Regions from separate parts of the Homo sapiens genome. Here region 2 is linked to region 1. The links come from fine-mapping of genetic effects on gene expression. A gene starts in region 1. The other region holds a variant in brackets. All regions are shown on one strand. Distances are from middle to middle.

Region 1 (2,905 bases):
CAAAGTCAGGCAGGCAGTCTGACAGAGTCAACGTTTGTGGGAACCTACAGCGCTTCCTTCTCTCTCTGGAGATGAGGACAATGAAAAAAGGTGTTCTGTTTTCCAGTAGTCCTGTAAGAGGAGCCATTGAGCTGGGCTGTACAACCAGACAACAGAACACAGGAAAATTCACATCAAAGCAAGGGCGCATGCCAGGGTAATATGCAATAAAACCCTCTGCCAAAGCATTAAGGGGAAAAAAAAGCAAGGAGGTAGAGAGAACCTGCTGGACTACCTTCTCATTAACACAGGGAGGCAGAAAGAAACAAAATCTGCCTGTATTCAGGAGCGGAGAAAACTGTGTCCTAGATATATTGGAGTATTCCTATAGACATGTTTATGAGCATTCGGACAAATTATCAATGAACTAAACCCAGAAAGCAGTGTCCTGTACGGTGGAGTATTCCTATGTAGACAGACATGAGAATCTTACCATTAACTAAGCCCAAAAAGGCAAAGTATTCTAGAAACACAGATATATGAGAATTTAGATGCACATTTCCAATGAATAAAACCCACTGGTTTTACAGTGAGAAAAAACTGTTTGAAATAACATCAGGTAAAGAATTGGGTAAAGGTGTGATGAAGTTATATCCCCTCCCCTTTTCCTCATACCCTTTTTGACAATCTCTGATTCTCTCATTTCATAGATGTCCCTTTCACTTGAATGCGCACACACACACACACACACACACACACACACACACACATCATTAGGTCTCCAGAAACAAAGGAGGGTCCTTAATTCTCCGGCCTGTGGAACCACACACGCCCCCTGCCCACAGATGGTGACTTTCATTAATGAGTAAGCCGAGGGAAGAGGTCTCCACCCCGACCACTGCCATGCACACTGTGACAACGGGGCACGAGACAAGCGCCACAAAGAAAGGGGAGGAGTGGACGGGGACCAGGAAAACACTGCCACGCCGCACCCCCCAAGGCGCGCGCCCACCGCCAACGCGGGGGCAGCGTCCTCGCCATCCTCCTCCTAGCCTCCCAGCTCATCCCAGCCGCCTCCCACGCCCGGGGACCCGATGCCAGGGCTTGGGCGAGCAGGACGTGCGGGGGCCCACGCACCTTCCCTCCGTGATCTCCAGGTGACAGCCCCGCTCCGCCCTTTGTGAGGGACTCACCCTCCAGTCCCGGGGCCGCGCCGGACCCTCCTCCGCGTCCCTCCTCAGCCTGGAGACACCGCCTCACCCCTGCACACCGCGCCCGGCCGGCCGAGGCGCCGGGAGAGTGTGTGTGTGTGGGAGGCTGGCGCGGGCCCGCGGTCTCCTCAGCATCCCGAACCCGGAGCGGCTCGGTCCCCCAAACCCCAGCCCGGGGGCGGCGGCCGCGGCGCTCCCGCCCTCGCTCGCTCACTTACTCGGGCGCGCCGGTGGCAGCGGCAGACGTGCGGGACCGTCAGCGCCCTGCGGCGGGCGGCAGGCTGCGGGCGGCGAGCGTCCGTCCGGACAGAGCGCGGCGGAGGTGGCGGCGGCTGACTGCGCCCGGCGGCCCCTCGCGAGGGGCGGGCCCGCCGGGGGAGGGGCGGGCGCCGCGCCTCTCATTCATGCAGCGGGGGCGGGGTGAGGGACCCGGATGCCCGGGCAGTTTCCCCACCCACCTCGGCGGAGGGCTCGGCGGCTTCAGAGTCTGCAGTGCGCAGGCGCGGCGCTCCCTGGCCAGGCCTGGTGCGGCCCTGGCCGCTGGCTCTGTTCCTGGTTAGAACTACGCCAGACAGGCCGGGCGAGGTGGCTCACGCCTGTAATCCCAGCACTTTGGGAGGCTGAGGCGGGCAGATCACGAGGTCAGGAGATCGAGACCATCTTGGCTAACGCGATGAAACCCCGTCTCTACTAAAAATACAAAAAATTAAATTAGCCGGGTGTGGTGGCGGGCGCCTGTAGTCCCAGCTACTTGGGAGGCTGAGGCAGGAGAATCGCCTGAACCTGGGAGGCGGAGCTTGCAGTGAGCCGAGATCGTGCCACTGCACACCAGCCTGGGCGACAGAGCGAGACTCTGTCTCAAAAAAAAAAAAAAAAAACAACTACTCCAGACAGACCTTCTCCATCGACCGTTTAGTATTTTTGCGTGCCCTACAAGCATTTTTAAAAGTGAAAGCATGGGGCCGGGCGCAGTGGCTCACGCCTGTAATCCCAACACTTTGGGAGGCCAAGGCGGGTGGATCACCTGAGGTCAGGAGTTCCAGACCAGCCTGACCAACATAGAGAAACTCTGTCTCTACTAAAAATACAAAATTAGCTGGGTGTGGTGGCTCATGCCTGTAATCCCAGCTACTCGGGAGGCTAAGGCAGGAAAATCTCTTGAACCCGGGGAGCGGAGGTTGCAGTGAGCCAAGATCGCACCATTGCACTCCAGCCTGGGTGACAGAGCAAGACTCCGTCTCACACACAAAAAAATGAAAGATTGGAATGCCACCCCTTTCCTAGCATGCAGATTGACAGTCCCCAGAGACACAAGAATGGTCACGTGGTGCCCATTGGTTTGATGGGGAGATGGTATGCACCGCACCCTCCTCCATCTGCCCCTCCTGCTGCAGCCTCTCAGCTGAGTGCTAGAACCTTGGTGATGGATGAGACCTAGACTCTGCCCAGATAGTGGAGAGAGGTGTGTGCAAGAAACAGTGCATTCCTTTATTTACATCCACTCCTCAACCTCCGGCTCCCATTCTACAGGGCAGGCAATAAATTGACCTCCGATTTTGGGAGGCTGAGCTCTTCCTGCAATACCAAGGCAAGGATCTGGGGAGTCCTCTCTTGTCTTTAGCAGGCAGTGTATTCTGCAGATACTCTCTTGTTCCCATCGCCTTGTGTCTGCCACTCCTGGGGTACGGAAGTTTCTGGAGAGGCTAGGAGCCTGC
Region 2 (2,905 bases), 68 kb after region 1:
AATTTGGGACATTTTTAGCCATTATTTCTTCAAATACTTTTTCAAATGTAGATCCTTTCACCTCTCCACCTGGGTCTCTAGTGACACAAATGTTAGATCTTTTGTTACAGCCTCACAAGTCTCTTGGGTTCTGTTCATTTTTTTCTCTACTATTTTCTCTCTGTTGCTTGGATTGGGTAATCTTATTGTTCTATTTTCAAGTTCACTAATTCTTTATGCTGTCATCTCTATTTTGCTGTTCAATCCATCCATTGAATTTTAAATTTTGTTGATGTATATTTTGGTTCTAAAATTTCCATTTAGTTCTTTTTTTTTTTTTGAGAAGGAGTCTTGGTCTGTCGCCCAGGCTGGAGTGCAGTGGCGCAAACATCTCGGCTCACTGCAAGCTCCACCTCCTGGGTTTAAGGGATTCTTCTGTCTCAGCCTCTTGAGTACCTGGGATTAGAGGCAGGCACCCCCACGCCTGGCTAATTTTTGTATTTTTAGTAGAGATGGGGTTTCCACCATGTTGGCCAGGCTGGTCTTGAGCCCCTGACCTCAAATGATCCACCCGTCTCAGCCTCCCAAAGTGTTGGGATTACAGGCATGAGCCACTGTGCCTGGCCTCCATTTGGTTCTTTTTTATGTCTCCTGTTTCTTTGCTGAGACCCACGACTTTCTGTTCCTTTGCTGAGACTTTCTATTTTTGTGTGTTTTTTTCAAGGGTTTGTAGTTGCTCATTGAAGCATTTTCATGATGGCTGCTTTGAAATTCTTGTCAGACAATTCTAATATCCATGTCACCTAGGCACTGGTGTCTGTTGATTATTTTTCCTAATTCAATTTGAGGTTTTCTTGGTTCTTGGTTTGATGAGTCATTTTCAACGGAAACCTCAACATTTTGAGTTTCTGTTGTGAGACCTTGGAGCTTCTTTAAATCTGATTTAGCAGAGGCCTCCTCTGACTTGCTCTAGGGAAAGGGGCTGCTACTTTGTTCCTGTCAGGTGAGGTGAAGGTCCAGGTTCCCCACTCTGCCTCTGTTGACAGTCAGGGTCAGGGAAGGAGCGCCTCATCACTGTTGGGCAGTGGGTAGGGTTCAGGCTTCCTACTAGGTCTCCATCGACAACACCCTGGCTGGGAGGGGCAGAGTTCCCTTGTCACTGCTTCACATGTGACCTCCACTGATACTGTGGGGAAGCAGGATAGCCTTGTTACCGTTTGGCAGTTGCGAAAGTCCTGAGTCTCCACCAGGCTTCCTCTGAGACCACTGGAGAGGGGGCGGGGGAGAGGAGGGGGGCGGGGGAGAGGAGGGGGGCGGGGGAGAGGAGGGGGGCGGGGGAGAGGAGGAGGGCGGGGGAGAGGAGGAGGGCGGGGGAGAGGAGGAGGGGTGCTCCGTTACCACCAGCTGGGA[A/G]TGAAAGTCCAGGCTTCCCATGTGGTCTCCACTGACACCCCTGGGAAGGGAGACCTCATTGCTGCCCAGCGGGATAAAAGTCCTGGCTTCCCACCCAGCTTTTTCTGACACTAGCCTGGCCAGGGGGAAGGAGATTGAAACCTCATGATAGCCTGAAGCCGTGAAGTCCAGCCTGAGCCTAGCCATGAAGCCGAGGCTCCCCACTCAGCCTTTGATGGTGCGGGTGGGGGTGGGGTCTTACATTTTTTCCTATGGTATTTGGCTGGCACAGAACGATCATTGTCTAAAAGTTTTCTGTTTTGCTAGGCCACTCCATCTTGGTCCTTTGGCAAGCAGAGCAGGATTTTCTTGGGCTTTTGTGGGGCATCTATTCCCATTGTTGTTTCCAGAATGCTGGCTTCTTTGCACACTGTCTGGGATATATGAGCCAAAAAGATAAACCCAGAGAACTCATTGCTGTGTCATTCCCTAGGCCCCAAAGTCCCTAGCTGGTTTGCCTTCTTCTCTCTGCTTTCAGATGCTTGTTTTATAGGCAGTATCTAGGGTTTTTAGCCATATTTACTGGAAAGAATAGGAAAAAACACATCTACTCCATATTTCTGAGAGTTGAGGTGTCATAGGTTGATTTAACCATGCCACTGATGCCTTTAGCTCTATCTGCCATGCAGCAGGTATCTTCTAGGTCCTTCATGGGGACCAGGCACTAGTTGAGGCCAAAGAGGAGACAAAGACTGACTCTGACTTCAGGAGCTCACAGTTTTGCGGGAACACAGGACTTTGCCCCAGGTAAGCTTGGATAGTGAAGAATAAGATGCTATAGAGGAAGGAATTACTTGAATGGCCTGGTTGGGGAGAGCTTCCTGGGAGGGTGAAAGTGGAGATAGAGTATTTTGGTAAATTTTAGAGAGGAGCTGCAGGAAGTACAGGTGCCAGGAGAGGAGCAGAGGTCCAGAGGGGTAAGTAGGGATGGCAGGAGGCAGCAGGGAGAGAGCTTGCCTGGTTGGGCCCTCAGGTGAAGCGAATGAGCCTGAAGGACACCATGCACAGGGGCTTGACAGTAGTATCTTCAGAACAGGAATCTGGGGATCAACTGTGACATGGCAATTGTGTGGGTGAGCAAAGATGGTGGCCTGGCCAGTGCAGTGGCTATGGGGTGGAGAGGAGAGAACAGGATCAAGAGGCATTTAGAAGGTAGAACTGATGGGTGTCTGGATTGATCTGGGGAAGAAAGAGAGAGGAATTAGATATGAGGCTGAGATTTCCAGCTGAGGTCTCTGGGGAAGAATGGTGCCATAAACACGCAGAGAGAGAAGACAGAGAGGGGAACCAATCTTTGGAATAAGAGGATGAGATTTTGGCCACTGGTACCCAGAGGCCCTTCTTCAGAGAATGATGCAATGAGACCGAGGTGAATATTTTCTCTGAGCACTGAAGTTTCAGATCAAATAAGCAACAGATTTCTGCTCTGTGAAAGCCCTGTAGTCGAAAGGCAGTACATTGCAAATTTCAAAGAATA

What was found. PIP is the estimated chance that this variant, and not a neighbour inherited with it, causes the effect.
Region 2: its variant is fine-mapped to the expression of RNF24 in blood mononuclear cells (TOPMed, PIP above 0.99).

What each region holds. Positions count from the first base shown.
Region 1 is chr20:4,014,029-4,016,933 of GRCh38, forward strand. It overlaps RNF24 (ring finger protein 24), which reads right to left and starts at 1,530. Exons shown (of 6, transcript NM_001134337.3): 1 at 1,409-1,530. RefSeq lists a silencer at 1,037-1,636 and enhancers at 1,520-2,452, 2,656-2,905.
Region 2 is chr20:4,081,826-4,084,730 of GRCh38, forward strand. No RefSeq gene overlaps it. Among named protein-coding and RNA genes, the nearest start is that of SMOX, 66 kb to the right of the region's middle. RefSeq lists enhancers at 412-611, 525-1,026, 1,027-1,526 and a cis regulatory region at 896-1,593. The variant A/G (reference allele first, on the strand shown) is at 1,390.